4 linked regions of the Homo sapiens genome follow. The protein of the gene in region 4 interacts with the protein of the main gene of each other region in a pairwise test. Each region holds a gene or a part of one and is shown on either strand. Other genes may lie near its edges. The genes, in order: SLC35H1, GJA5, CLDN2 and EMP3.

The links.
Region 1: the proteins of EMP3 (region 4) and SLC35H1 interact in binary tests that used the Homo sapiens proteins (3 or more experiments, as listed by UniProt).
Region 2: the proteins of EMP3 (region 4) and GJA5 interact in binary tests that used the Homo sapiens proteins (3 or more experiments, as listed by UniProt).
Region 3: the proteins of EMP3 (region 4) and CLDN2 interact in binary tests that used the Homo sapiens proteins (3 or more experiments, as listed by UniProt).

Annotation. Positions count from the first base shown.
Region 1 is NC_000020.11:46,347,026-46,354,536, forward strand, and holds part of SLC35H1 (solute carrier family 35 member C2), read right to left. Parts: intron 5,202-7,511; coding exon 5,026-5,201; intron 3,866-5,025; coding exon 3,736-3,865; intron 3,500-3,735; coding exon 3,369-3,499; 3' UTR 1-3,368.
Region 2 is NC_000001.11:147,757,289-147,764,599, reverse strand, and holds the start of GJA5 (gap junction alpha-5 protein), read left to right. Parts: upstream 1-3,997; 5' UTR 3,998-4,101; intron 4,102-5,328; 5' UTR 5,329-5,361; coding exon 5,362-6,438; 3' UTR 6,439-7,311.
Region 3 is NC_000023.11:106,915,240-106,923,725, reverse strand, and holds the start of CLDN2 (claudin-2), read right to left. Parts: upstream 3,325-8,486; 5' UTR 3,175-3,324; intron 1-3,174. UniProt on the Homo sapiens protein: Forms paracellular channels: polymerizes in tight junction strands with cation- and water-selective channels through the strands, conveying epithelial permeability in a process known as paracellular tight junction permeability.
Region 4 is NC_000019.10:48,320,534-48,329,025, reverse strand, and holds the start of EMP3 (epithelial membrane protein 3), read right to left. Parts: upstream 3,475-8,492; 5' UTR 3,416-3,474; intron 3,036-3,415; exon of another isoform or gene 2,973-3,035; intron 2,197-2,972; 5' UTR 2,182-2,196; coding exon 2,104-2,181; intron 1,506-2,103; coding exon 1,403-1,505; intron 1-1,402. UniProt on the Homo sapiens protein: Probably involved in cell proliferation and cell-cell interactions.

The sequences.
Region 1 (7,511 bases), on a different chromosome or scaffold from region 4:
TCCATTTCCTGAGTGGTGATGACTATGAGCCGAGCACTGTGTGCTTTACCTACATTATTTTATTTCACCTTCACAGTAGCTTCCTTCAGGTGTATGTATTATTATTCCTTCTGTAGAGACAAGGAAACAGGCTCGGAGAAGATCAGCAACGTGTCCAAAAGCACGCAGCTAATCACAGCAAAGAGAGACACGTCTCTCACTCTACGGCGTCTGCAGGTTGTATCCTTAGCCATCGTTATGCTTAACCACTTGGAACTTAGTTTCCACAGCTAGGAAAGAAATACAATCAGTCCTTACTGCACCGGGCTGTTACAGATTAAATAACCTATGGCAAAGGCCTAGATGGTGCCCAGTGAACGGTCTTTTCTGTTCTTTCTTCCCCATTCCCCAGCCCACTGCCTCATCACTTTCCTGGGCTGGGAGGAAGGCTGACTCCAAAAATGAATGTCTCTGTCCCCAAGTCCGGCAGTGTCTGCCATGTAGCCAGTACTCACTGAATGCTGTCGACCTAAATGGATGGCCTGGGAGTCCCCACCCTCAGTCCATCACTAGTGTGTGATGCAGGAAGCTGCAGCAAGTACCATGAGGAGAATTCTCTTGGTGCCATGTAACTACTCTCAAGCCACTGGGATTTTCAGGTTTTTCACAGCAGGATAAAGCAGAAACAGATGGAGACAATCCCTTGAGCCCTCAAGGCAGAAAAGGGTACCGGAGTGAAGATGAAGGTATGCCGGGCCCTGCCTGATGGCTCAGGTCCCTCCCACAGGCAAACTGCAGCCCATTCTCACCGCCACCACAACACCAACTGTGGACGTCCTCACATATTGGAGCCATTAACCTTCCTTCCACTGTGGGCCCCTGGGAGAGGTGGTGGGCAGGTAAGCACTTGAAACTCGAACCTGCAGGTCAGTCCTCTCTCCGCCCCTTCTGCAGAAGCCTCGGAGCTGGGGCTGTGTGGGGACAGACACCACAGCCTTGGAGAGACAAGTCACATCCTCAGCTTCCCCTCAACCTGTGCAAGCACCGCGTTGCCATGGTGATGCTGCAGCCCTGAGATGCAATGGCTGCAGACAGCATGGGTGGTTCTAGGGCTCAATGCCGAGGTGGACGCTGTCTGGCCTGGGAGGCCAGGCGATTGGGTGGGCTGGGTGGGGGAGGAGAGGGAGCCCTCCTTTAGGTTCAGCTGGTAATTGCTGCTAAATGAAGGGCTGTCATTGAACCCAACATGTGCGAGGTAAGGGCCCCCGCTCTGCACCTTGTAATTACTGCACCAGACAGCAACGCTTGCTCCCTGTGCTGGGAGGCGGGCAGTGGGGGAGCAGACAGGAAGCTCTCATCCACCTGAGCCAGCGGGGCTCTGGCAGACTCCCCCTGCCGCCCAAGCAGCCTGCATCCCAAGCAGCCTCTAAGACGGAGGAGGCCCTGGCCCCCCTCCTTGGCTGGCTCTTCCCACATCATCCAGCTGGAGCACGAGCCTCCTTTAATCTTGGCCTCTGAGCTTGCGGAATCCAAGGGGGGCAGAGGTGCAGGAGCCAGATAAGAGGCCGCTTCCAAGCGCCCTTGGTGCTCCACCTCCGCCTGCTGAGTCTGTGCTGGGAATCTGAATTAGAGGCAGATCTCGGTCTGACTCCTGAGCACGGAGGCTCTGAGGGCCTCGGGCTAGTCACCGCCCCCTCCTGGCTTCAGTCTCCTGCTGCAGAAGTGGAAGTTGGACTCGAGAATTCTTGAGGGTTCTCCTGCTGGTAAACTTCAGCCAGCAAGCTGGATCCTACTTTTGTAAATGGGGTTTCACTGGGACAGCCACACCCTGGGTCTGTGTCATCTATGGCTGCTTTTGTGCTACGATGGCAGAGTAGCTGCAACAGACGCCATATGGTCCCCAAACCCCAAATATTTACTATCTGGCCCTTTACAGGAAGTTTGCAGACCCATTTTTAAAGTATTAAAGTTCTCCTGGGCTTAACCGAACGAGCTTTAGTGACTCCAACCTGATGGAAACAATTTTAGAACAAGCCCTATCCTTGTCCCCACCCATGGATACCCACTGTCCTCTTCCAAGCACCCCTTTTCTGCCGGTGTCTGGATAGCCGTGGCAGGGCAGCTGGGCTCTGGGAGCCAGTGTGGTGCAATGGCGCCACCTGCTGTGAGTGCCTAGGAGCACTTCGCCTGGAAAGCTTTGTCCCCAAGGGCCGGGGGGGTCTCCCATGGCCCGGGAACCAGTTTACAGGAGTAGACTCAGTCCACAGCACATCAGAGCTGGGGTCTTGCCCCCTCCCTTCCTCATTTGAGAGAGGCCTGCAGTCTAGAGAAGACGTGGGACTTGGCCAAGGAGGAGTGGAAAGCCCAAGCCCCAGGGGCCCATGAAGTTCCAGGAGGCTGTGTGGATGTCACGTGCAGCACGTGCACACACAGACGTACACAGACTTGGATGTGAACCTCAGCCCGGCCACTTAAGCAGCTCTTTATCTTTTCCAGGCTTTAGTCTCTTAGTTGTTAAAAGGATTAAAAGAAATGCTTATATAACATTTAATCTGTTACTAATAATGACTCAATCTTCAAAAGGACTCTGAGATAGACATTATCCCCATTTCACAGATTAAAAAACTACGGCACAGACAGGTTAGGTCATTTGCTTAGGGTCACACAGCTAGTGACAAAGCCAGTATTCAAACTAGGCTGTGAAAACATGTAAGGTCTCCAGAATGCAGTACTCAGTAAACATTCATTTATTTCCTGCCAGCAGGTGCAGTGGGGCCCCACTGGGGAGGGGACTGGTGTTCTAACAGGAGCGAGAAAATGAAGGAGGCCTGGCTTAAGACCAGACATTTGAAGAAGGCTCCAGGCAGGGAAAGGAAAGGAGAGGCCAGGCCCACACTGTCCCCTCCCTGCCCCCACGTCTCCAGCAACACAAGGCGGCCAGTGGACCGTGAACCATTTATTTCCAAACTATAAAGAAACCTGCTCTCTGAGAAAAGACACTGCCCAGGTGATGAAGCTCCAGCCCCTGGAGGTCCAAAACCCAGTCCAAACTCAGTCCCTTTAGAAAGCTGCTGTGCCTTGGAAATGAGTCTCGGCTGTCAGAGCCTGGGAAGTGGTGGGAAGAACCAGCCCACTCCCCTCTCCTGCTGCGATTCCAGCGCAGCTTGGGCCCAGCTCTGGCCAGTCCCAGGCTGGCCTGGTGCTCGCCCCTTGTGTGACCAGGCTCTGAAGGGAGGGGCAAAAGTCATGAGTCCCTGGCTTGGCCCCACCACCTGGTGACTCCCGTCCACAGCTCCCAGCTACCATGATGAGCCCTGGCGGCTTGAGCACAGTGAGTGCTGGCAGCAGGCTGGGGAGTGGCCTGCTTCTAAGCCATTTGCCCTGGCTGGTCACTGCTGCCCCTGGGCCACAAAGTACTCCTCCTCCTCATTGTCACCTTCCTCCCGCTGGCTGCTCCGGAGCAGCAGCTCCAGGTCGGGGCTGGAGCCCAGCCCCTTCAAGGCCTTGGGGCCACCATCACCTTGGGATAGAGAGAGACCACAGTTACAGGCCCAGTCGTGGTTTTCTTGGTTTGCTCTGATTTGCATGTGTGCTGAGTCACCCAGGCCCCACCCACCCACTCTGGAGATGACCCCCACATCTTCCTAGAGGAGTGACGGCAGCAGAGCCACCGGGCACACTTCCTGCATCAGAATCACTAAGAGTCACAGGGAGAAGAACAGAAAACAGAGGCTTCTGGAAGGGACTCTGGGTTACCTCTGGAATGCAGGGCTTTGAGGGCAACGTGGAGGGATATTCCCGAGAGGCAGAGGGCGAAGCCCAGCCAGTTCAGGAGGCTGATCTGATCGCCCAGCAGATGAGCTGCCAACAGCAAAGTGCAGACTTCCTGGGGGCAGAGAAGCAGGAGGGAGCATGATCAACAGGCAGATTTGGCTGCTTGACCAGGAGGGTGGAAGGTGGGGGCACTAGGTACACTCAGGTGGGCAGATCAAGATCTTACTGAAATCCTGGGCCCAGGCAGGCAGAGAGGTCAGGGGACCCGGCCGGCTTGCGGCGCTGTCCCGCCAGCCTCCTTTTGTGAGATGCAACAAAGGAGGTGCTTGTCATGGAATTCTGTCAGGAATAAAAGAGGCAAACCAGATCCCAGGCTGGGGACCAGGGTGTCCAGATCGCGCCTTATCCACAAGGATAAAGGACGGCTGCCCCAGAAGGCAGCCACAGAAGAGAGCCCTGAGCCTATGTGTGAGAATGCTGTGTTACCCCGGACTGAAGACACAACTGGTCCCGGGGCTCTCTATAAACAGAGACTCCAAACAGGACTGGCAAGGCCGTTCATCCAAGAACCACAGCCATGCCTCAGCATGCGGCTGGCCACCAGAAGACCCTTGGACAGGCCTGCATTTCTGGGTTTAGGCAACACTGCTTCAACACTGGTGTGTGCCTGGCCAAAGAGAAAAGTCCCTCCCTGCCCCTGAACAGGGAGGACTGTTGAAATGTGTGGGAGGGAGAAGGAGAAGTGAGAAGAGGTATGAGAGGGAAGGACAGGCCTGCGAGGCAGAGGTACAGCAAGGCTGGCCACAGGGGTGCTTTCTCAGGGTCTCACTAGCCCTGGCCATGGCCTTGGAGGACACCGCCAGTCAATCACGGAACTCTTTCCTGATGAGTCTGGATAGGGGCTGTTCAACCTGTGGCTCCAGGCCACTGCCCAGTGCCAGAGTTGGCAGTCAAGGTAAAATGTGAATGCATTCCAGGCCTAGCAGAGTCAGAGCTGGCTTTGAGGCCCCTGCTGTGCCCTTGGGGAGGGGCGGCTCTCCATCTGTGTCCCTGTCTGTGGGATGGGAGTGATCATACCCTCTCACAGGGCTGTGGTCAAGGCAGAAGGAGGGGCCAGCACAGCACTCAGCAAAGTGCCTGGCACCTAATGGGGCACTTCCTTCTCTTCTCTGCAGGGCCCTGGGGTGCAGGAGCTGGGACTGAAGCTGCTGGTGAGAAACCCCTGGGGGCTCCCTCTCTAAGACAGGACTGGCATCACGCCCGAGTCTGTACCTTAAAAATGCCGGCAATGGAGAGAGTGAGGCTGGAGGTTCTGGAGACCAGGAGGAACTCAGAGAAGCCCAAACCAAAGGCGAGAATCCCGCCAAGGAAGAGGCTCCCAAGTACCCGCAGGAGCAGCCCTGTGTCCTGGAAACGGAAGATTTTCTCAGATGTGGACAAATGGAGACCTGAAAGCAACAGGGAGAGAGAGTGGGAGGCCGGGTCCTGGGCTGCCTTGGCCAGCCCAATGCCAACCACACAAGATCTTCCACTGTAGTAGTGAGTTCTTACTGAGACCTGCTAACTGTCTGCAGCCCAGAGAAAAAGCATGGAAGGTATAAAGTGATCCCACACAGATGGCCTGAGACCTGGGGAAACCAGGGAAGCAGTGATGGCTGCCAGAGCGCCTGGGGGCAATACAAGCCAGATCCTAGCAGGATGATGCGGATCCTAGCGGGATGATGGGACCCTAGCGGGATGATGGGGATCCTAGCAGGATGATGGGATCCTAGCGGGATGATGGGGATCCTAGCGGGATGATGGGATCCTAGCGGGATGATGATGGGATCCTAGCGGGATGACGATGGGATCCTAGCGGGATGACGATGGGATCCTAGCGGGATGACGATGGGATCCTAGTGGAATGATGGGGATCCTAGTGGGATGATGATGGGATCCTAGCGGGATGAAGGAGATCCCAGTGGGATGAAGGAGATCCTAGCGGGATGATGGAGATCCTAGTGGGATGATGGGGATCCTAGCGGAATGATGGGGAGGGCTCGTCTGAGCCTCTGGGGTGAAGTAGAGGGGGGTGGCCCTGCATGGAAAGACGGATGGAAGTGCCCTGCACCTTTGGACAGTATTCCCTTACTGGTCTGTGGGGAGGGGCTCATGGCTGCTGACTTCATGGGGTCTTTGGAGCTGTGGTAACTACTGGGCTAAAGAAGGTAGGGCGGCTACCAAGTGACGAAGGACCAACAGTGCCCCAGCCCACTCAGGGAACTCCTTGGTCTACATTTCAGCCAGTTCACCTACAAACAGGGACAAAATTCTATCCCTACAAACGTTCATTTTAATCTAGGTCTTGCTAGTACAGAGCTGTGGGACTTGGGCTGAGATGTGTCCCCTTTCTGGACCTCAGTTTCCTTACTGATAAAATGAGAGGCCTGGGACCAGACTGGTATTTCTCCAACCCGTGGTATCACTTGATGAACATTTCCCAAAAAGAAAATGCAAACACATGGCCCCTTGCTCCAGAAACACAGGCATGCACACCCCCTACCCCAAATTCAGCTTAGACTTTCGGAGGAGTCATGGTCCCTCCAACACTGTCCATCTGGAAGAATGACTCCCGGCGTCCCTCCCACACGAAAGTCCTCGTGGTGTATTAGCACAGGGTGAAGGGGGGCCCAGAACTGGGCACAAGAGACAACTGTGGTAGCTGGAAGCTGGACGAGTATTTTGAGATTTTTGGAGGGAAGCACCAAAGAAATGCCGAGTGACAGTCCCCCCAGGCAAAACAGCCTCACAGTGTAGGACATCTTGTTTGGTGCTGGGCTCAGCAGAACTGCAAAGGCGTCGGCAAATTGAAGGGAATTCGGGGAAGAGCAGCATAAGTAATGAAGGCGCTTGGGGGATTAATTTACCAGAAAAGATTAAAGGAGCTAAATCCATGCAGCTTTGCCAAGTGACGACTACCAGGGGCTTTCAGATGAGGTTTTGCAGAGATGGGGCATGGTGTAAACACACGGGAGGGGAGGGAGAGTGTGGCGTTTGGTACAAGGGGGCATAATGAAGGAGTGGGGAGAGATTTTAAAGAAGGAAAAAAAACGAGGCCCTGAACAGAAGTTTCCTGGACAACGGGGCTTCAGAATAATTTTCTTGGGGAGGTTCAAGACGCTTCACTGCTTGAAACTTAAATGGATGTGGGACAGAATTTTCTGTAATGACCCTGAGGGCATTACAGACGGGACTCTGGGAGGAAGGATAAACAGAAAGGGGACAAAGGCTAATCCCAAAACATCAAAGAAAGGAAGGTGGCGTCACACCTCCCAGCCTACACAGTTCTCCAGGGCTCTCCTCATCCCTGGAGGACGACAGTGGAGGAACAACTGACCATGTCCCCAGGCTCCTGTGTGCTGGCTCCTGGTCTTCAGCCCCCAGCTCTGGAAGCCCACCCTCTGCTGATCCTGCGTGGCCCACACTCCTTGAACACACATCCCCAGGTTATATTCCTGGACATGGCTGAACCTCCTATTCCTACTTCCGAGATGCCTTGCTCCCTGCAGCCTGCCAAAATCCCACTCACCCTCCAAACCACGGCCTGGGAAGCCTTTCTGACTTGCCTGATTACTCCAGCATCTTGGAACAATCCCTGATTCCCCATTCCTTAGAGGCAAGATAGGGTGGTTAAGAGTAGGGCTGGACCACTTGGAGCCAGGCTGCTGGCTTCAAATTCTGGCTCATTTACGAGCTATGGGACCTTGGGCAAGTTATCT
Region 2 (7,311 bases), on a different chromosome or scaffold from region 4:
GCCCGCCTCGGCCTTCCAAAGTGCTGGAATTACAGGCATGAGCTACCACACCCGGCCGATTTTATTAATTTAATAGACACCATTGAGTGCCCAGTGTGTGTCAGGCCTTGCACCTCTTTGGTACTGTTCTCATTACTCAGAACAGTGGTAGGCACATAAAGGGGACTCAGCAAAGTATCTGCAGGTTGGCTGATAGACAAATGTTTGGAAAACAAGTCTAAGGAAATATATAACCAAGTGTGAGGATGTATCCTCCATGCTGGATGGTAATTAAAATTGCTACCATGTACCAGATGCTCAGTCTTCTGGAGTTCAGGGGACACCAAAGAGGGCTGAGGTCAATTTTAGAAGACTTATCCATTTTGCTGTAGATTTGCGGAGTCAGAGGAAGAGGTTCTGGCTATGAGTTTATGATTAATCTGGGTTGCTCTGAAATGATTTTCTTTGAAAAACACTGGCCGTGTAGGGGGACCACGAGAAGGAGCACTGGGCCGGGCATGGTGGGTCATGCCTGTAATCCCAGCACTTTGGGAGGCCAAGGCGGGAGGATCAACTGAGGTCAGGAATTTGAGACCAGCCTGGCCAACATGGTGAAACCCCTTCTCTACTAAAAATACAAAAACTAACCAGGTGTGGTGGCACACACCTGTAATCCCAGCTACTCCAGAGGCTAAGGCAGGGAGAATTGCTTGAAACTGGGAGGCAGAGGTTGCAGTGAGCTGAGATGGTGCCACTGCACTCCAGCCTGGGTGACAAAGCGAGACTTCATCTCAAAAAAGAAAAAAAGAAGCACTGGATTCAGAATGTAGGTGCCTGAGCTTTATTTCTGGTCATTGGCCATACAGTACATGAAATAAAATCATAAAATGATTCATGCTCACTATACACAAAATCCTTCCTCTGGCCCTCTTCCTCTTATCTAAGCACCATGTTGCTATTGCCAAACAAGTTTCCTAGTGGCCCCTCCAAAATTTGCTTTATCTCAGGATAGGACAAGTTGAAAGAGGATGTTGAAGGTTTGGGAGTGAAGAACCTTTAGAGTTGGGATGGTTCTCTTCCAGGTTCTAGGGACCATCTCTTTTTGCCTTGCTGATTTCAGAACTTGTATCAGTGGCAGAGGGCTTTAGAACGCAATTCCCTAGGACTCTCCCCAAAACCCAAAAACCAGATTCAGGCTCCTGCCCCACATTCCCATGACACCTTATACTTCCTTTATGTTAACACACATTGTGTTTTACTGAAATCATGTATTTAATGTCTGCTGTTAATAAAGGGGTATAAAGGCAGTTACACTCAGTGAAGTCAGGGAATCCCTTGTTTGTTTCCCCTCCTTCCTGCTGTATCCTCATTGTCCAGAATGATGGCTGGCACCCTGTAGCCACTCAATAAACGTATTAAATGAATTTTAAAAAGGACATTCTAGGCAGAGGGAACATAAGAAGCCAAGATAAATGGGTGAGAAATGGTGAGATGCACATAAGTACATGTGAAATTGTGTAGCTTAAGTATTGAGTGTGTGAGTGGAAAAGTGGAAAAATGATAGCATAAGACTGTACAGGGTTTCACATGGCAAGTTAAGCAGTTTGGACTTTCTAAGTGGTAGGAAGCCAGTGAGGATAACTGCTAAAGCAGTGAGGTAAATTGCCATTGTGTTTGATAGCATTTATTCATGGCATGGGCAGCTTCCTTTGCCCCTCCTAATACACTTCCTGCCAAGAAGCAGATAATAATCTACAAAGTATTTTATATGCTATACGCCCAGTAAACTCACTGAGTATCTAATCTACAAATTTCTTTGGCTGAGATGGGGTATCCAAAGGGAGCCAACGTAGCTGGAAAAGTAACTACAGCCAGAGACCTTTCACATTATAAACTGAGCATCTGGTACATGGTAGCTATTTTAAGTTTCTCTGACCTTGCCTGAGCGTCAGCAGGAAGTCATACATGAAAAACCCTTCACCCTATTTCCTCTGCCTGGGCCCAGGAGGTCTGCCTCACCCCTATACCTCCTCAGATAGTTTCTCTTTTTCCCTCCCAATAAGATATCCTTCCTAATACTGCCTTTCTGGTTTTCCAAGGTGTTCCTTTCTTGTATCTGTGCTTTACCTCTTCCAGGTGGAATTCCTTGGACAGCAGTGAAGGAGTCAGCAGTCAAGCCTCTTGGCAGACTAGACCAAAGGGTCACATTCTTTGCCTGGAACTATTTTTATACTTCCTTGGGGACTTGCAAGGAATGAGTGACAGAGTGAGAAGATCAAGGGAGAAGTCTTCAGGGACTGAGTGTGGAAAACTTGCCCCAAATCCTGGAAGAATATGACATTTGTTTCTTTTTTTTTCTATTTCCATTTTCCTCTCATTTCCTCCCCTTCTACTCTTGCTCCCATTTCTTTTCTCCTTTGTAATGCACCTTTCTCTACTTTCTGCTTTCTCTTTTTCCCTCCTTCTTCTACTCTCATCCTTCCCCACTGCTCTTGTTGCTAGTAATGGCTACCTTTTATTCAGTTCTTATTTGCTGAACACTGTGTTAAGTGCTTTGCACGCATCATCTCATAGCACTCTATGAGTTAATAGTATGTCCATTTTGCAGGTGAGGAAAGTGGAACACAGATTGAATCATTTATCTAAGCCCAGCAGATGGTAATAGAAATTTGTCAAACCTCAGTAAGCTAACTCCTGCATCTGTCTTTTCTTAACCCTACATGGTCTTTTTCTCCATTTCCAACTCTCCCTTGTCCTTCCCTTTTCTTCTCTTCTTTTTATTCCTCCCCTTCTCTCCCTCCCTCTTTTTCTCAGACATTTACCATAGTTCAGTCACTGCACGTGTGTGGCTGACCCTGAAGGTGCTGAACACTGTACATGTGCCCAGAAGAGAGGACAGACAATTCAAACTCTTATCTAATCAGCCATTTTCCTTTTGAGCACATGCTCCACAATTTTCCACATTTGGAGGCTGAAAGAGGGGGCGCTTCGCCACCTAAGGAAATGGGGCAGATGTCTGATCACAAATGACAGGAAAGGCCTCAAGACCTGCATGGGTCTTTGATATAGAGAGGAGCAGAGATAAGATGCTTTCCGCTCACTCAGGAACTCCCTCATTCCCAGGGACACTGTATACTCTCAAGTTTGGGGACCTGGGGTCTGAGAGAATACAGGGCCAGGAGGTTGGTCCCTGTCAAGGCAACAATCAACTCAAGAGCTGAGGAAGCCTGGACTATGAAATGCACCACCCTGACCCCATCTTTCCCCATAAGCATGAAGAATGTTCAGACAGAAACCAGGAGCACGTTGGCAGCAAAGATATGACGGTCAAAGTTTGAATTTGACAAACCTCTAAGGACCCACCCAAATCTGAGGTTTATGATTCTAAGAAAGGAATATTTATGCTCCATTCCCTCCGAGACGTTTGTCATCCTGTTGGTTAGGAATGGTTAGAGGCTTAAACTGTAAGAACATTCGTTATTCACTAAGTAAGAATTCTGGAGGTAGGGAGCCTCAAGAGTTGCTTCAGAGGCCTCAGGGCACTGGTTGACATTTCTGAGATTCTCTGGACAGCTTTAGACATCTTGGTTCATACAACTCTGTCCACAGGCAGGAAGCGGTGGGGCTAAGTGAGGCTCACTCCTATTCACCGGGGGATGGGAGCACTGTGAGTAGTCTCCCTCCTGTTCACCAGGGGATGGGAGCACTGTGAGTGAGGTTCCCTCTTGTTCACAGGGGGATGGGAGCACTGTGAGTGAGGCTCTCTCCATTTACTGGGGGGTAGAAAAACCTTTTCTGGAGCATTCCCTCTACTTTAGATTCTCCCCATACCTCACCTACCAGAACTAACTGCAGAGGAGATTAAGAAAGTGATACCTGGCTTTTTCACCCTGCCAATGGGAGGCAGGCAAGAAACAGGGAATTGGTTTTCTATTGGGTAGGAAACAACAGTGCCTGTCAGCCCCTCCTTCATTCACTCAACTAAGATATATTAAACACCTACTCTGGGCCAGGCTCTGGTGATACAGAAGAAAAGACAGTCTCCATTTTCAAACAGTCCCTCCTGGGAGAACACAGACAGGCAGAGGATTACAACACAAGGCAGCAAGCACTGGGAGACGAGTAAGTGTCCCGGGGGCCATCACAGGAGCTGAAGAGGCTCAGCTTGAGGGAGGAGGGAGGGCTGGAGGAGGCAATGACTGGGTTAAGTTTTGAAAGGTAAATGGGATTCAGCTAGGGGTGAGGGGACATGTAGGGGTACAGAAGGAGGGCATTTGGGAAGACTTGGCATGGCTGGACAAAAGGAACTCATGTGGACAGGCAGGAACAGGCTGGAAAAGCAGACAAAGGCCAGATGAGGGAGGATTTTGTAAGGGACATAAAGTTTTGGGACATTTATTCTGGACATAAGGGTGGGCAGATCTGTGTGTGGGAACCTTATTTAAATGAGACACAGAAACTTAGCAGCAGGGCGAGCTGAGCTGTGTGGCTGGAATGGCTGTGTTGCACCGAGGCATGGGAGATCAACATTGCCTTACCAGCCAGGGGAAGTGAGCACTCATCTGTGATACTGTTAGCTGGTGTGACCAAAGCACACTTTTTGTTTGCCACCTCCCAACACAGCTGGTCCATGCTGGATGGTTCTGATTTTTGCAGAGTGCTTCCTGAGGGGCCAAATTTGCCAATCCCATCCTCACTCTTTCCTCCTCCACCTAGTTCTGCCCTCTGGAGCCATAAAAAAATTCCTTTTCCATCCAACAGCCATTTAAACATTTGGAACAGTTGTGGAATGATTTTCAGAATATCACACACCTCATATCATTTAATCCTCAGAATTCTCTGGTGTAGCTATTCCCATCCCCATTCGATAAATGAAGAAACAGACTCAGTGAGGTAAATGCCCAGAGTCACATTTGCAGACCCCAGTCTTGTGTTCTTTTTAATACTCGTGTTTCTCCAGGTGCGGTCCCTCACCGCCTGCATCAGAATTACTTGGGCTGCTTGTTGTAAATCCAGATTCCTGGGGGCCATCCCAGACCTCCTGAAGTAGAATTACTGGGGCAAGAGCAGAATCCATATTGTAACACACACCACGATTTCTAGATCCGTTAAAGTGTGGGAGCCATGCTCTAATTTTGCTAATATGGCTACTTTGAATCTTCTCTTTCTTTTTATTTTTGCTGGGAAAGGAGAGCGAGCTTTTCGTTGGTTGCTTTGACTTCTAAGTTGCATTTTCTTAAAGAACCCATTGGATGGATGGATCAGTGGAATCCCAGAACATGATAGACATTCCAGACCTTCACAGAACATCCTTCTTCTTTTCTCTCTTTCTCTCTCTCCCATTTGCAGAAGTTTTGGCATCTGTTCCCTGGCTGTGCCAAGATGGGCGATTGGAGCTTCCTGGGAAATTTCCTGGAGGAAGTACACAAGCACTCGACCGTGGTAGGCAAGGTCTGGCTCACTGTCCTCTTCATATTCCGTATGCTCGTGCTGGGCACAGCTGCTGAGTCTTCCTGGGGGGATGAGCAGGCTGATTTCCGGTGTGATACGATTCAGCCTGGCTGCCAGAATGTCTGCTACGACCAGGCTTTCCCCATCTCCCACATTCGCTACTGGGTGCTGCAGATCATCTTCGTCTCCACGCCCTCTCTGGTGTACATGGGCCACGCCATGCACACTGTGCGCATGCAGGAGAAGCGCAAGCTACGGGAGGCCGAGAGGGCCAAAGAGGTCCGGGGCTCTGGCTCTTACGAGTACCCGGTGGCAGAGAAGGCAGAACTGTCCTGCTGGGAGGAAGGGAATGGAAGGATTGCCCTCCAGGGCACTCTGCTCAACACCTATGTGTGCAGCATCCTGATCCGCACCACCATGGAGGTGGGCTTCATTGTGGGCCAGTACTTCATCTACGGAATCTTCCTGACCACCCTGCATGTCTGCCGCAGGAGTCCCTGTCCCCACCCGGTCAACTGTTACGTATCCCGGCCCACAGAGAAGAATGTCTTCATTGTCTTTATGCTGGCTGTGGCTGCACTGTCCCTCCTCCTTAGCCTGGCTGAACTCTACCACCTGGGCTGGAAGAAGATCAGACAGCGATTTGTCAAACCGCGGCAGCACATGGCTAAGTGCCAGCTTTCTGGCCCCTCTGTGGGCATAGTCCAGAGCTGCACACCACCCCCCGACTTTAATCAGTGCCTGGAGAATGGCCCTGGGGGAAAATTCTTCAATCCCTTCAGCAATAATATGGCCTCCCAACAAAACACAGACAACCTGGTCACCGAGCAAGTACGAGGTCAGGAGCAGACTCCTGGGGAAGGTTTCATCCAGGTTCGTTATGGCCAGAAGCCTGAGGTGCCCAATGGAGTCTCACCAGGTCACCGCCTTCCCCATGGCTATCATAGTGACAAGCGACGTCTTAGTAAGGCCAGCAGCAAGGCAAGGTCAGATGACCTATCAGTGTGACCCTCCTTTATGGGAGGATCAGGACCAGGTGGGAACAAAGGAGGCTCAGAGAGGAAAGACGTGTCCCTTCTGAACTGATGCTTTCTCACTGTCATCACTGCTTGGCTCCTTTGAGCCCCGGGTCTCAATGACGTTGCTCATTAATTCTAGAAACTATAACCAGGGCTCTGGGATAGTAAGAGAGGTGACAACCCACCCAGACTGCAGTTCCCTCCCCACCCTCTACCCAGTATACGAAGCCTTTCAGATTACTCATGAAACAGGGTAGAGGGAAAGAAGGGAAGCATGGCAAAAGCTGGCCTGGAAGGGATAGCCAGAGGGATAGAATGACTCTCTCTCTACATACCAGCAGCATACCAAATGCGTTCTCTAAGTTCCTACCTCCTTGACCTGATCACCCTCCCTCCTCCAAGGAAGAGCTCAAAGTTCCCAGCCAATAGACAGCATGAATCAAGGAACTTGCATTATATGTGCTCTTGAATCTGTTGTCTCCATGGACCATTCCTCGGAGTAGTGGTGAGATGGCCTTGGGTTGCCCTTGGCTTCTCCTCCCTCTACTCAGCCTTAAAAAGGGCTTCTTGGAACTTTACCAGCAGCCTCAGCTTTACAAATGCCTTGGTATGTACCTCTGGCAAATGCCCTGGTATGTACCTCTGGCAAATGCCCCACCTTGGTGATGTTGCAACCTTTCCTTCTGCTAGGGTGTACACCTAGCCTGTGCAGGTGTCAGCCCTGCTAGGGAGTCACTGTACACACAAACTCTACTGGAATTCCTGCCAACATCTGTCACCCTGCAGCTCCTTTACAGTTCAATCCAATGATAGAAACCATCCCTTCCCTTTCTCCCTTGGCTGTTCACCCAGCCATTCCCTG
Region 3 (8,486 bases), on a different chromosome or scaffold from region 4:
ATGTTTTAATGGCCTCAAATTCAACATTTGCAAAGCTGGAATCATCTGCCCTTTTTGCTCCCCATGCCCAAACTGCTCCTCATGCAGTGTTCCTTACCTCAGTGGGGCTGTCACTGAGTTAATAACCCAAGCCAGTCATCCTTGCTTTTTCACCTCTTGTTGACATATAATTAATTATAATGTACCATCAGGTCTGCCTTCAAAAATAGACTGTGAATCCATCTACTTCTTTCTGTCGCCACTGCCCTAAACCATAGTTCAGACTATGCAACCATCGTTTCTTGTCTATTTGAAAATCTCATAGACACCTCAAATTGATCTCTCTAATTCCACTTCTGCCCCAATCCTGCAATAATGAATTACCTACCCAGTAGTCAAAGATCTTTGTAAAGTTGAAATCAAATTGTGACTTTCACCTCACGCTTTGCCATGCTTAAAAATCTTCAGGAGCTCAGCCGGGTGCGGTGGCTTACGCCTATAATCCCAGCACTTTGGGAGGCCGAGGCGGGCAGATCACGAGGTCAGGAGTTTGAGACCAGCCTGGCCAACATAGTGAAACCCCGTCTCTACGAAAAATACAAAAATTAGTTGGGCGTGGTGGCATGTGCCTGTAATCCCAGCTACTAGGGAGGCTGAGGCAGGAGAATCGCTGGAACCGGGAGGTGGAGGTTGCAGTGAGCCGAGATTGTGCCACTGCACTCCAGCCTGAGCGATAGAGCAAAACTTTGTCTCAAAAAAAAAAAAAAAAAAAAATCTTCAGAGCTCTTAAGTATTTCAGGATGAAGTTCAAACTTGCTAGCCCAGGAAACCAAGAAAGCCCTCCATTATTTCACCCCGGCTTTTCTTCACAGCCTCATCTCACACCATTAACCTCCAACCTCATGCTTTATGCTCCTATACATACACATATGATCCAGCCAAACCTAAGCACTTGAATTTCTCTGACTGCCTTTCTCTCTGTCTCCAAGCCCGTAAGCATGCTATTCTACCATCCACCATTTGCTTGGATAATTGCAAATCATCTTTGAGGATGCATCCTTGCCTTGAAACCATCCTTGGGCCCTCCCTGCTCCTCACCCAGGCTGGGTTCAATACTTTTCCTTTCTTCCTCCTATTTGTATCTGAGCTTTCAGTGAGAATTGGTGAGATACCTTGAGGTTTTCAAGGGGAAGACCTACTGCTTCCCAGAGGAGCAGCTCCTGCTTCAGCCTTCCTGGGATGGCAGCTGAAGAGTCAAGCTTGAGTTTCCCAAGGGAATCAACAGTGTCCCCAAGAGGAAAGCCTCTCCCCAGAGCCTGTCCTAAGTAGTAGTAAGTAGGCAAGTGTTTTGGGGTGAGGGAGAGGGCAGAGTCAAGAAAATGCCATTACTGAGGCTTGGAATCTCTAGAGTCTGACTTGGCATAGCAGCATGCCCAGGCAGGAGGAAGAACAAGTTATTGGAGCTTATTCAAGTGATAGAAATGGCCCCATGGAGGGGGGGTTCAGCTTTCCACCAGAGTTAGGAAGACCAGCTAAATGGCGAATGGTTGGGTGGTGAGACAGGCTGGATTCAGCCAGGTTTTTGTTTGTCTGATGAGCAGTAGAGGTGAGGGCAGACAGGGTCCTGGTGTTAGAATCAAAAGATCTAGCTTCTTGTTGTGTCAGTTCTGCCTAGAACCTGCTGAGGAAGTCCTATAGCTTCTCTAGGCCCTAGTTTGTCATCTCCAAGATTTTTAGTCTCAAATAAAGGCATGGGGACAGGAAGCCACTTTGACAAATATAGAAGACTGAAGAGCTGTTATTAGAAGCAGCCAGTTTTAATAGAAGCCTCTCTTTGAGGGATCCTCCTAGAAGTCAAGTACTGGCTGCGTTGGAGGTACAGAGGACTCTAGGCCTTGTCAGCTGAATTTGTCTTCTGGGCATAGGGCCAACATACTCCATGGCCCAAGGACTGGGCAAGAAAGTTTAACTTAGGATCCTTACTTAATCTTCCCTAGTGGGGAGATTGGAGCTGCAGGAGAGGATTAGGAGGGTCAAGATTGACCGCAGCTCCTGACTTAACCCCTTCTCACCTAGGTACTTTCCCTGCTATTCTCCCCATCTCTTGCTCCAAGAGTCTTGTGCATGGTACTCTTTCTTTGGCAGTACCCTCCTAAGACTACATGGGACAGGGCACTTGGGGTTCCCAGGCTCAAGGAAGGAACTGATGTGGCCTTCTGGGGGTGATGATGGCCACCACAGCCCTCTTCTGTCAGTCAGCCTCATTTCTATATCCCTTGATCTCACTGCCCCTCATAAGAATCTGAGACACTTGCCCCCTTCTCTGAAACTCACTTCCAGCTGCCAAGGGCACTAGTAGGTGGCAAAGCCATTCCCTTGAGGCCCTACTTTCTTGAAAGTTTGTCCTTAGAGCAGTTCATCTTTCCTTCTACATCAATTGATTGATGGCAGTTCAGAGAATTGCAACTGGATTGAGAGATTTTCTTATTGTTTGAAAAAGAAGTTGATTTTTGTCCTGATCATCAAAGTAAAGCATTCTCACTTTAGAACACTGGAAAACACAGAAAGGCAGAATTTAGAAAACAAAAATCGCCTACGATCTCCCCGGCCATAAGTGCTGTGAATGTTTTGGTTCCAACTGCATTTTCAAAGAGGGCACTTGAAGAGAGTAATACCTCAGTCGAAAGAAGGAATTTCTAATGACAGACTTGCAGACCAGTGAGGGAGAGTCCTTGAAGGACCTCATGGGGAAACTTTATGACTTCACTTAGGAACCCACCTTCTGCTACCTCCCTGAGCCTTCATGCCAAGGAGGGCACTGGAGCTGGCTGTGAGGGAGTGCCCCTTCTGCCACTCCTCAGTCCCCTACACTTAGGCAGAGGGGTAAACTGTGGCTCCCTTCCTCCAATTTTTATCCCAGTCCTTTTAAGCCCCCAAACCAGAAAATATCTGATTTGGAGAGTGCTTTCTCTGGTCCTGAAGTTTTAAAGATTTGAACCTTTGTGATAGCTTTGAGGGAACAAATACCACCAACCCAAATGCCACCGGAGTTTCCCCTCCCATACCCTTCACTCAGAAACCCAAGGTGGCCCAGCCTGGCTCCACCATGGGGTGAATGGATAGTGACTAGGAAGGAAGAGTGCCCACCTCGGTGAATTTAAAAGGCAGCAACTATATCAGGATGGAGATACTTACAGGGCAGTTCTTTGCAGAGCCTTGGAGGGGGAGATGCCCCTGGAGAGGGAGAAAGGGATCCTGAGGGAGGGGAGCGAAGTACAAGGGGCCACGGGCTGAGGTGATAAAGGATTTCTAATCGTTAACCACAGCTTTGCAAAATCCATCTGCAAATCTGAGCCGTGGGTCAGAGACTTATTACAGATCAGAATTAAACCCCTGGAGGCTGGGAAAGATTGAGGCACTTTAGAAAAAAAAAAAAAAAGGTTTGGTGGGTTTTCTGTGTGTGTTTTTTTTTTTCTGTCAAAAACTCCACTCCAGCTGGGCTTTTGTGTGGTGACCTCTGTGAACCCAGGAGAGGCCTTGTGGGGAGGGGGATTTGGCCCAAGAAGGAATTCAGAACATTCCAGCTTTGAGGGTGGTGAGAGGAGGGGGCTCTGTCCCACCAATTAGGTGTCCCTGGCTAGCAGCCCTGAAGCCCAGCAGGGAGTAAGCTGCATAAACACAGCCCTGGTGAGCCAGTGCCCAAGCAGCCCTGCATGGCCTGCAGCTCCATAGACTTTTCTACTCAGCTTGATTCTCTGGCAGGCCCTCAGCCCTACCCCACCCCTAAGGTTGGTCCCAAGGCTCAAGGGCAAACATGGGTACTGTAGGTTCAGACTCTGAGTTCAAAGAGCAGGTCCTACAAGGTGGAACTGAGTAGGCCAGCATAAGGACAGGGCTCTCCTTTTTACCACACATGGCAGTGCCATGCACTATGTCATTTAAGCCTCTCAAAAGTGCTGTGAAGGCCGTGTGCAGTGGCTCACGCCTGTAATCCCAGCACTTTGGGAGGCCGAGGCGGGTGGATCACCTGAGGTCAGGAGTTCGAAAACAGCCTGGCCAACGCGGTTAAACCTTGTCTCTACTAAAAATACAAAAATTAGCTGGATGTGGTGGTGCGCACCTGTAGTCCCAGCTACACGGGAAGCTGAGGCAGGAGAATCACTTGGACCCAGGAGGCGGAGGTTGCAATGAGCCGAGATCATACCACTGCACTCCAGCCTGGGTGACAGAGTGAGACTCCATCTCAAAAAAGCAAAGCAAACAAACAAAAACCCAAACAACAACAGAAATAAAACCAAACCAAAACAAACAAACAAAAAAACATGCTGTGGAGTAGTAGAGCGCAGTGACTGGCTTTACTCTCCCAACGCAAAAAAGCTTTCTAGTTTTTTCTAAGTAGAAAAATACTAGATGCTATTGAAAAGAATTCAGAAAATGAATTATAAAGAAGAAAATAGAGGTCCTCATAATGCCACCAGCCAGAAATAATCATTGCTAACATTTTGATGTATTGTAGAAGATATCGATGGGATTTGTTTTATAAAATTGAATCACACTATACCTACAGTTTATGTAACCTTACATCATTTGTAAATAACATATCGTGGACCTATTTCCATGTCAATTAAAACACAGAACTACATCATTCTGTCATGGCTGCACTGCATTCTATCATATAAAATATGATTTATTTAATCGTAAACTACTAGACGTTTTGTTATTTTCATTTTCACTATAACCCAGCATCTTTGCACATAATACTGACAAAGTCTTAAGAATAGAATTGCTAGGTGAAAGAGTGTGCATGTTTTAAAGGCCAATACAACATGTTACAAAAATAAGACAGCCATTACTATTTCCAGATGAGGAAACCTCGGCCCAATGAGATGAAAAGAGTTGCCCAACATCCCAAGTTGAGCAGTAATAGTTAGACTTGGAATCTAGGTCTGTAGATATCTAGCTTGGCAAACTTTGCAGTGTACAACACCAACTCCCTCCCAAGGATTCCCATGTACAAATGATAAGGCCACGGTTCATTGAACACTTGCTAGGTGCCAGGCACTGTGCTGAGGTGTTTCCTATCCATGGTCTCACTGTGCTAGTACAGAGCAAGGCCTGGGTACCAAACCTGGCCACCTCTAGAGCTTGCCTCATAGTCATTATGCTTGACTCTATTTTTCAAGTCATATCAAAGCAAACAGTCGGATTTGTTGCCTAGGGTGAACTCAGTGAAGCAAACCAGAAATCATCCTCCTTCCCAAGGCGGCCCATCCCTACCTTGCAGGTACAAATGGGGCACTGATCCCCTGGCAGTGCTCCTGAGCAAGGGTCTCTCCAGGGCACTCCCTCTTGGCAGGCTGGGACACGCTAAAAGGGCAGCCATGCCTGAGCTCAGGCCTGGGGAGTCTTTGGGCATGAAAGCAAGCAAGGCTGAAGGGGTGGGAGGGATACCAGGCTAATCCTCTAACCAACTATGTGACCTCAGGCAAGCCTCTCCATTTTCTTTTCCCAGGCTTCACCCAGCCGAATTCCCAAGGCTGGGTGAATGAATGTGAATGCATTTTGACAAGTAGAAAATGCTGATTGAATGCAGAATGTAGTAGAGGGGCACCTTATCAGTTCATAGTGACTGTGCAATTGAGGATAGGAAAAGGCAGAATCTTAGGGGCAGGTGCCAGGGCGGATGAGGAGACTGTGTTGGCAGGATGTGGTTTCCAGATTGGCAATCATTCAAGGACTGGGTTCTAACACTGTGTTTCCTTCAGGTCGGCATTGTCAGATCCTGGTGGAATCATGCCAAATACTATGACTCCTCAGTGTTGAGCCTAGGAGGTTCTTTAGTAATCCTTCTGCCAAGACCCCTGCTGAGATCCAAAGAGCTTAGATGGGTGCGGGAATGGAGAGGGGGCTGAAAGAACAGGAAAGAATAGCAGTCTGAGAAAAGCAGCATTTAGTTCAGGAGACAAGTGAGTAGGGAGAGAATAAAGGGAGGGAAATAAGAGTATGGGAAGAGGTGGTTTGGGGGAAGAGAAAAGGAGAAGAGAGAAAAAGGGTCTTTGAGGAAGAAAATCAAAGAGAGCTCTGTAGAAAGCAAGGTCTTGAAGGGCAGGGAGGAAATGATGCTATGAAAAGAGGAGTCTAGAAGGAGAAGTAAGAGACTCTAAGGAAGAGGGTGTAGGGATGGACTCTGGGAGAAGGAGTTAGGGTCTAGGGCAGAGAGAGACTTAGAGACATTTCACCCTCACTGTTCCACCAAAAGAAGTTCTTGTCACAGTTACCAATGACCGCATGTCACCAAATCCAATGGCCACTTTTTAGTCCTTAATTTCCATGACCTCTATGCAACATTCAATGCCCTTGATAACCTTGTCTTCCTTGAAATACTTTCTCCTCTTGGCCTCTGTGATAACAACACTCCTCTGGTTTCCCTCTTATCTTTCTGGGTACTTCTTCATTGGTACCTCTGCCTCTGCCAGACCCTTAAATATGGGCACTTCTCAGGAGCCTGACCTAAGTCCTCGTTCCTCACTCTGCATTCCCATTCTGGGAAGTCTCATTTATCCTCTGTGGTTTCAGTTATCCTCTATCATCTGACGACTTCCAAATCATCATTTTCAGCCCAGACTTCTCTGGGCTTCAGACCTTTATATACTGGCATCTCCATTTGGATAGCTGAAAGTTGTCTCAAATGCAACATGTCCAGGGTCTTGCTCTGTTGCCTGGACTGGAATGCAAGTGGCATGATCACAGCTCACAATAACCTTGAACTCCTGGACTGAAGGGATCCTCCTGCCTTAGCCTTCCAAGTAGCTGAGACTACAAGCATGTGCCGCCACGCCCAGCTAATTTTTATAATTTTTTTGTAGAGATGGGGTCTCACTATATTGCACAGGTTAGTCTCAAACTCCTAGGCTCAAGCCAGCCTCCTGCTTCAGCCCCTCAAAGCGCTGGGATTACAGGTGTGAGCCACTATGCCCAGCCTCAAAATTGTATCCTTGATTTCCCTTTGAACTGAAATCAGTCCTCCTTCAGTCTTCTCCCTTTGAGAAAGCCAATTGTTTAAGCCAGAAACCTCAGAGTTAGCCTTAATTCCACTTTCTCTGACCCTCATTGTATCAGACCTGTAAATCTTTCCCATTCTACCTCCAAAATTTAGCTTTTTTGTCCATCTGCTGGTTTCGACTTCCACTCCCCTTAGCATCATCTCTCACCGGGATGCAATACCCTTCTGATTTTCCTATTTCTCCTTTTGGCTTTCTACAGTCCATTCTCCACATAGTAGTATGATTTGGCCCCTACCTAGCTCTCCAAACTGGTTTTGTACTACTCTCCTCACTCCCCACTCTCCCGACTGGCTTCCTTTCAGTTTCTCAAGCCTACAATGCTCTCCCTTCCCTCTAGGCCTTTACAAGTCCTGTTCCTTCTGCCTGGAACTCTTTGTGGACCCTGGCCCTACTCCACCTTCAGCTGGTTTTGTCTGGAAAACTCCTTATCCTTTAGGGCTCAGCTTAACGGTTGCTTCCCTGATTCCTGGGGTCTCTTGGTTGGATATTCCTCCTCTATGCTCCCAAAGCATCTTGTTATCCCCCCACCAATTGTCTTGGGTTGTATTTGTTGTTGCTACTCCTGCATAGGACTGTGAATGCCTGAAGGGTTTGGCTTTTTTTTTTTTTTCTTAATTCAACTTTTATTTCAGGTTCAGGGGTATATGTGCAGGTTTGTTATATAGGTAAACATGTCATGGGGGTTTGTTGTGCACATTGGGTTTGGCTTTCAATTGTTATTTTCATCACTATTCTAGTCTAATACATAGTAGGTGCACCATTGAATTGATGGAATCAGACTGAGAAGAGATTGTGGTAAGAAGGGAAACACTAGATGGGTCTGGGAAGAAAGGGGTCCAGGAGAAGAGGAAGGAGAGACAAAATGATTATGTAAGAGAAAGGTGGGTGAAGAAGAGAAGTTCTGGGAGGGGAGGCAGGAGAAGGGCTCATGAAGACATGTCTGGGAGGAAAGAGAGAATAAAGGTTTGAGAGGCAATGGATAAGCAGATCTAGGAGGAGAAATGTTGAGCAAGGGCTTCCTAAGCACTAATGCACAGACTTAAGAAGAAAGGAAGGGAGTGGTAGAGGATCACCAATAGGAGAAAACTAAGGCCAATGTAGCAAGATTTGTAAATTATTTAAAGCTTATTCAATTTAAAAGACTACTTGTAATTCCGGACTTATTCTTTGAATAGTTGGTATTAAGGTTTCTTTTGTAAAATAAGAGGTGGTAGTATTTTTCAATGCCCTTAATTAACAAAATTAAAAGTTTGAAAACCATATGTTGATTCTCCCTCATTTTAAAAAATTTTGTAATTCCACTGGTCCACAAAAATCCCAATTGAGGAGAGCTCTGGGAAGAGCACATTCTGTCAATGGGTCTCAACATTTTGGTCTCAGGACCACTTTACATTCTTATTTAGGAAATGACCTAAATGTCTTTCAACTAGTGAACGAATAAAC
Region 4 (8,492 bases):
CCCTGCCTCCTGAGTAGCTGGGACCACAGGCACAAGCCACCACAACCTGGGTAATTTTTAAATTTTTGTAGAGACAGGGTTTCCCTATGTTGTCCAGGCTGGTCTTGAACTCCTGGGCTTAAGTGATCCTTCCTCCTCAGCCTCCCAAGGTGCTGGGATTACAGGTGTGAGCCACTGTGTCTGTCTGCTTTGCAGAATTTTAATGGATTTTCTACATAAACAACATGTTTACTGGGAATAGAGACACTTTTTCCTAATTTATTTCCCATGCCCTTTATTTCTTTTTCTTGCCTTCTTGCATTGGCTACTCCAGTAAAAGGTTGAATAGAAGTGGTGAGAGCAGACCACTTCCTTTAATCTTAGTTTTGCATTAAATCTTTCACACAGAACTTTAGATAGATGCAGCTCTATTCCTTTAGAACTCCAATGCACCTGGCCCCACCCCTTTAGAACCTTAAGTGGTTTCAGCCCCATCCCCTTGGAATTTGGATGAAATGGTCCCAGGCATCCATTCAGAGCACCAGCCCCATCTCCTTAGAGCTTTGGAAAAATACTCTTGTCTTCTCAGAATCTTGGGAGATTTTTCTCTATTCTTTTTTTTTTTTTTTTTTTTTGAGACAGAATCTTGCTCTGTTGCCCAGGCTGGAGTGCAGTAGTGCAATCTCAGCTCACTGCAACCTCCACCTCCTGGGTTCAAGCGATTCTTCTGCCTCAGCCTCCCAAGTAGCTGGGACTACAGGCGCACGCCACCATGCCCGGCTAATTTTTTTGTATTTTTAGTAGAGACGGGGTTTCATCATCTTGGCCAGGCTGGTCTCGAACTCCTGGCCTCGTGATCTACCCGCCTTGGCCTCCCCTCTCTATTCTTTAAACCTATAGCATGCTTTTATCTATATGGCCTCTTCAGAACAGGAGGTACTGGCTGGATGTGGTGGCTCACGCCTGTAATCTCAGCACTTTGGGAGGCTGAAGCAGGTGGATTAGCTGAAGTCAGAAGTTCAAGACCAGCCTGGCCAACATGGTGAAACCTGTCTCTACTAAAAATGCAAAATTAGCCAGGCGTGGTGGCACACACCTGCAGTCCCAGCTACTCGGGAGGCTGAGGCAGGAGAATTGCTCGGACCCCGGAGGGAGAGGTTGCAGTGAGCCAAGATTGCGCCACTGCACTCCAGCCTGGGCAACCAGAGGAAAACTCGGTCTCAAAAAACAAAAACAAAAAAAACAAGAGGTAGGTACATCCAGACAGGCGGGACATGCATTAGCCCTAGGCACTCAGCCACTCAGGCCTGGACCCCGCCCACTCCAACTTTGTTGGGGGAGGGTTCCCAATTCTCAGTCCCATGAGGACACGAAGGGTTTACCTTCCCCTTTGAAGACCAGTCCCGCCGCCCTCACCCCTCACCATTCTCGCTGACATTACTGCAGGCCCATGTTTTGGTGTCGTTGTTCCACGTGCAGTCGTACCAGAGATTCAGGGACTCTTTCCCAGGGAGAGTCCACCAGGACTGGGATGGACAGAGAACGAAACAAGGGGCAGGGTTAGGAAAGGAGAGGGGATAGGGTCAGGCAGACTGTGGGAAGGGCTGGGAAAAGGGCAGGGTATCTGGGATGGGGCAGAACTGGGGAGAGTTAGGATTTAATATGAGAGGGGGTAGGGTCAGGACAGGGAGGAGGCATCGGAGGTAGAGCTAAAAGGGTTAACCTGGTGGTTCATGCCTGTAATCCCAGCACTGTGGGAGGCCGAGGCAGGTGGATCACTTGAGGCCAGGGGTTCGAGACCAGCCTGGGCAACATGGTGAAACCCCGTCTCTACCAAAATAAAAAAATTAGCCGGGCTTGGTGGCAGGTGCCTCTAATCCCAGCTACTTGGGGGGCTGAGACAGGAGAATCGCTTGAACCCGGGAGGCCGAGGTTGCAGTGAGCCGAGATCGCACCACTGCACTCCAGCCTGGGGGACAGAGTGAGACCCTTGTCTCAAAATAAATGAAATAAAATAAAAAAGAAATACTAGGTAAAGGGGGTGGGGCCAGAATGCCTTTAGAGGAGGGGCGTGGCAAGATTCCAAAGGGGAACAGAAGGGCCCTGAGCTCCAAGTAGGCTTACCTTGTCCAAAGTGGCCACGAAAAGCAGTATAAGAATGAGGATGTGAAGGGCTGAGACCACCAGCAAGAGGAGTGACATGGCTGCAGTGGAAGCCTGGGGAGGGGGAGCAGGGGACGGAGTCTCAAGAGGTTGGCACAGGCCAGGCACACTCACGCCTATAACCCCAGCACTTTGGGAGGCCGAGGCGGGAGGATCACCTGAGGTCAGGAGATCGAGACCAGCCTGGCCAACATGGTGAAACCCCATCTCTACTAAAAATACAAAATTAGCTGGGTGTGGTGGTGCACACCTGTAATCCCAGCTACTCGGGAGGCTGAGGCAGGAGAATCACTGGAATCCAGGAGGCAAAGGTTGCAATGAGCCAAGATCATGCCATTGCACTCCAGCCTGGGTGACAGAGAAAGACTCCGTCTCAAAAAAAAAAAAAAATTTGGCATAAAGGCAGGTGAGATGTCTCCTGATGGAGGAAGGGCATGGGTGCAGACTCCTGGGTCTCTCAGGGAGGAGACCGCTGGGGCCTGGATTCCTGAGATCCCCATTGGCTGGAGGGGTGGAGAGGGCCAAAGATGGACTCTTGGGTTCCTTGAATGAGGAGGACTAGCAATGTGGCTCCTCTCTCCCCAGAACCCTGACTCTGGGTTACATACAGGCCAGATAGTGAAAATTCAAGTTGAGACCCCACCCTGCACCCCGACATCAGGATTGAGGAGCTGCCCCCAGCAACAGGCATTCTTGACTCACACCACTCCTCTCCTGGGTTGAGGGGAGGAGGGGGACCTGGTGAGTCATCTGGTGACTCATCCCCACCCCCCCCCATCTCTAAGCACCAGGGAAACCCCAGCCCCTGGCTATGTCCACGAGGTCCTCACCCCACCCTGCTGCCAGACTGGTGACTGTTGGACATCTTCTGGAGGAAATGGATAGGATTCGCGCTGGGGGGAAGAGAGGCCCAAGAAGGAGTTAGCCTCCCAGGACTCTTTGGTGCCCAGGAACAGGGGACCTAGAGGTCTCCCAGATTTGGGGTGTTCTCATGCAATGCCCTGATCTCAGGGACCCCAGAGGACAGTGGACACCGCTGAGGGAAAAACTGCAGGAAGTTTTCCAGTGGAGGGCTCTGCTGGGACCCCAAAACTTTGCCGGGCCCCACCCCTTCCCATATCCCCACCTCAAGTGCTAAGAGATCACTTATTAAATTAAAAGGATTTCCAAGAGTCAGGGACGTCTCTCCCAGCCTGGGGGTGTCCTTCCCAAACTGCTACATTCCCAAGTAAATTAAGAAGTCCCAGCCCTGAATAACGGACTGGAAACTTACCGAGAGCCGCGAAAAAAGTCAGAGCTGGAGTCGGAGTCTTGTCCCTCGCTCGGGCCTCCGTGCCCCGCCCTTCTCCTCCCTCCTTTCACCCTCCCGAGGCCCCCGCCTCTCTCACCGCCTTCCTCCCTCCCTTGCTCTCCCCTCCAATCCAGAACCCTTTCTCTCTCGCTCGCTCTCCTTCTGCGTCTCTTCTCTCCCTCCTGCCCTCACTGTCTGGGCCTCCTTCTCTCTTGCTCCCGTTTCTCTTTCTCTCCTCCTCTCAATATATACTGACCCTTTTATAAACCCACCCTCACCGCACCCAGCTGAGGTCGGCTGCCAGTGGGAGGGCCCAGGCACTCCGGTTCCTCTTTCTTTGGGCCCCCACCCAATCCCTCCAGACAGACATCATCTGGGGCTCCCTCCCAGGGTTGAGATGAGAAACTCTTGGAATGGGGTTCTTGGGGGGGGCAAGCGTCAGGGGTGGGAGGGCCCGATTCTCAGGACCCTTGAGTTTTGAGGTCTTGCCCTGGGGCCGGATGTCTGCTTTCCCTGATGGAGCTTGGAGCTGGATAGGAGTCTGGGAAAAGAGGCCAGATTTCTGTGGCATGGACTTGAGATTGGGCTGGTGAAGTTGGCCCCGTGGTGGGGGGTCAGAGGATGGGAGATGAAATTTGTGAAACTCGGCAGGGCGTTGTGGCTCACGCCTGTAATCCCAGCACTTTGGGAGGCCGAGACGGGCAGATCATCTGAGGTCAGGAGTTCGAGACCAGCCTGGCCAACATGGTGGAAACCCGTCTCTATCAAAAATACAAAAATTAGCCGGGCGTGGTGGCGGGCGACTGTAATCCCAGCTACTTGGGAGGCTGAGCCATGAGAATCGCTTGAACGCGAGAGGTGGAGGCTGCAGTGAGTTGAGTTTGCACCACTGCCTTCCAACCTGGGGGACAAAGTGAGATTCTGTCGCAAAAAAAAAACAAAACAAAACAAAAAACAAACAAACAAAAAAAAAAACCTTGTGAAACTCTGGAAGCGGGGAGGAAGCGGAAGCTAAGAATCCCAGCGCCATCATTTCCTGGTTCAGTGACCTTGAGCCAATTATTTCACCCACCTGGGCTCCAGTATCTTAGTCTATGTTGAGAGTATAATAATGCTGACAAAATACTAATACTGATAATAATAATTCTGATACTTATGCTGAATGAATAAGGTAATACTGGCACACTCACACACCTAACCTGTTCCTTCCTTCATCAAACATTTATTGAACATGTACTCTGATCTGGGAGTTAATAATGAAAACAGACATGAGCCCTGCTGGTATTATGGAGCTTGTATTCTAGTAGAGGAAGACAGACAAGAGAAAACATCAATGATGAAGATAAATCTCAGATAAGGATAAGTGACTTGAAAAATAAATACAATAGGCTGGACGTGGTGGCTCATGCCTGTAATCTCAGCACTTTGGGAGGCCAAGGCTGGAGGATCACCTGAGGTCGAGAGTTCAAGACCAGCCTGGCCAACATGGTGAAACCCTGTCTCTACTAAAAATACAAAAATTAGCCAGGCATGGTAGTGGGCGCCTGTAACCCAGCTACTCAGGAGGCTGAGACAGGAGAATTGCTTGAACCCGGGAGGCGGAGGTTGCAGTAAGCTGAAATCACGCTACTGCACTCCATCCTGGGTGACAGAGCAAGACTCCATCTTAAAGAAAAAAAAAAATAAAAGAAGAAAAGAAAAATAAATACAATAATAAATCAAACAGAGTGATGGAGATAATGACAGAGTGCAGGGAAGACTACTTGAAACAGGAAAATCAGGGAAGGCCTCTTGGAGGAGGTAACATTTGAGCTGAAGACAGGAGTCATTTGAACGCTGGGGTTGGGGAGTGGTGGGGGGGCGTCGGGGGGAGAGGAAGTGCAAAAGCTCTTAAAGCTTTTGAGAACAAGCTCAGGTTGTTTAGGGAGCAGACAGAAGGGCCAGTGTGGCTGGAGCACAGGGAGACAGAGGGAGTGGTGAGAAGGGAAATCAAAGGGTGCCCTTGAAGACTAGGGGAGGGGCTTGGATTTCATTCTAAGTGCAGTGGAAAGCCATTAGGTTTTAACAGAGTGTAGTACCAAAGATTTTTATTTTTTTTTTGAGATGGAGTCTTGCTCTGTCATCCAGGCTGGAGTGCAGTGGCATGATCTCAGCTCACTGCAACCTCCACCTCCCGGTTCAAGCGATTCTCCTGCCTCAGCCTCCTGAGTAGCTGGGATTACAGGTGCCCGCCACCACGCCCAGCCAATTTTTGTATTTTTAGTAGAGACGGGGGTTTCTCCATGTTGGCCAGGCTGGCCTCGAACTCCTGACCTCCAGTGATCTGCCTGCCTTGGCCTCCCAAAATGATGGGATTACAGGCGTAAGACACTGTGCCTGGCCCCAAAGGTTTACTGTTAACTATTATTATTAATTTTGGGGATATTAAATTAGGGTCGGGGTGATGACTACTATGTACACGAGTCTCTTGGGAGGGGACCAGGTGCCCAGAACTCTGATAAATTGAGAGCAGGGGAATTCAAATCCTGGATCCAGGGAAGGGAACTGGATGATGGGATGTCTGGGTATCTGATGGGCCAGAGCTGGGTTTGGGATAGCTGTTGGTGATTCGGGCTCCCTGAGGGGGTGAGGGATGGACAGTTCAGTGCTTGGCTGGGTACCCCAAGACCTGGAAGCTGGAATACCAGTATAGCACAGACTCTAGAGCCACACTGGTTGGACTCAAAATCCAAGCTGTTTTACTCAATGGCTGTGTAATTTTTGGCAAGTTACTAATAACTTCTCTATGCCTCAGTCTCTTCATCTGAAAAATAGAGATAATAGTAAATACATTATAGGGCAGTTCTTAGGGTAGTGCTAGTCATATCAGGCATTGGGGCTCTGAGTGGAGTCAGTACTGGGGGACCCTGATTCAGGATCTCTAGGAGTTGGGGAAGGGGCAAATTCTTGGGTCCATTGGGTCTCAAGGCTAAAGTTGGGAATCCAAAATGAGGGTCCCTGGGGGAGAATAAGTAGTCTCAAACTTAAGTGCCTGAGAGACAGAAACTGGGGTCCGCACTCAGATCCCTAAGGAAGTTGCAAAGTCTGGGTCACTGAAGGAAAAATTAGGGGCTGGGGAGACATACGTTCCTCTTGGGGAGCAGGAAAAGAGGGCTCCACTTTCTTGAGAGGACTAGGGGGAGCCAGGGGCTAGGAAGATGGAAACTTGAGCCGGGGAGGTGAAAAACACGAGTCTAGGACTCAGAATCAAGTTCCCTGAGTGGGATCGGCGCCAGGCTTGGGTACCCTGGGGATATTAGGGGGGTCCCCGCACTATGGCTATGTAGAAGGGGAAGAATCAAAGGATCTGAGGGTGGCGGCGGGATCTCCCCATCCTGGGCCTCCGAGATTATGAGCTGAGCTGAGCGTACGCAGGCCGCTTCCTCCCACAGGAAACCGCAGGCTTCGGGCACACCCAGCCTGCAGGGAGAGGCGCCCACTGCCCGCCCGCCCGGGGAGGCCCACGTGGGCAGCAGCCGCCGCCGCGGAGGGGGCGTGCCTTACAGAGCGAGTGGGTGTAACCAGAGGGGGCGTGGCCAGAAACCGGGGGGCGGTATGGAGTGCCCGAGGTCTCACCCACTTCCGCCCTCCAGCGCGCGGACGTGGTAGGCGGCCAAGCGTTTTTGGCTGCTTCCCGGGAAGCCGTTGGTCGCGCTTGCGTAGTGAACCGCTGAGGCTGTGTTGAGCGCTCCTTCTCCGCGCAACTCCCGGCTTCGACACCGCCTTCCTTCCTATGAATCCTTAATTTAACGTGGTCACAGTCAGCTTAAGACCGGCACCTCTCGGGCTCCGTCTTGTAGGACCTCGGCCTGGCTTCGAGGGCTTCCATACAGGTCACCGCAGGCTCTTTCAACTCCCGCCGCTTCCAGGCCCGCGGTACTAGTGAGACCTCAGCCTCGACCTCCCCAGGACCATTTCGACCTCCCGCAGGCCTTCAAGGCCTGAGCGCCTCCCGATTAGCCCGCCCTTCACCGCCCTTCCACCGGGCCCCTCGTAAGGCCTTCCAAACGCGACCCTCGAAGCCCGCCCCTTACGGGGAAGCCCCTCCGCTCGCTGTCTGCGAAGCCCCGTCCTGTACTGGTGTCCGTGCCCCTCCCCTCGCCGGCCCCGAAGCCCCGCCCCTCGAAGTTCTTCCCACTCACTCTCCTCACAGGTCTCAGCCCCGCCCATCACAGCTCCCTACGGCACGCCCCTCTCAGGCCTCACAGCCGTGCACCTCTCAGGGCTCCGCAGCACCGCTCCACAGGCCCTCCCGGCTCCGCCCCTTTCAGGACCTCGCCGCCCATCAGTTTTGTTTGTTTGTTTGTTTGTTTTTTGAGACGGAGTCTCGCTCTGTCGCCCAGGCTGGAGTGCAGTGGCGGGATCTCGGCTCACTGCAACCTCCGCCTCCCGGGTTCAAGCGATTCTCCTGCCCCAGCCTCCTGAGTAGCTGGGATTACAGGCACGAGCCGCCATGTCCGGCTAATTTTTTGTACTTTTAGTAGAGACGGGGTTTCACCATGTTGGCCAGGTTGGTCTCGAACTCGTGACCTCAAGTGATGCGCCCGCCTCGGCCTCCCAAAATGCTGGGATTGCAGGCGTGAGCCACCGCGCCTGGCCTTGCCCATCAGTTCTCAGTCCGTGGGAACCCTGCAGGTCTACGCCTCGCATCCTTCTCCGCCCCTCCTCCCATAGTTTCTCCCGCGGCCTCAGTCCCTCCCTGGCCGCTGTCCTCAGTCCTCATTGGTCCCTTATCTCCCCAGTAACCAGACCACAACACTGAACTTGGAGCACCAAGAACAGGTCAGGCCCGTCGGCAGGTAGGGCCCAGGACTCCCCCGACCCTGCCCAACCCCCACTACAGCAGGCCGGGGTTTCCCCCTCTCCTGCGACCAAACAGCCTGGCCTCAGATATCCTGAGAGCCCAGGAGGCCTGTCCCCTGCCAAACCCGCGCCAGAATCGGAGCCTAGACGCAAGACCCAGAGTGTGAGAGGTGGGAGGGCTGGAGAGGTGTGGGAGAGGCCTGAGAGAGGTCCCCCT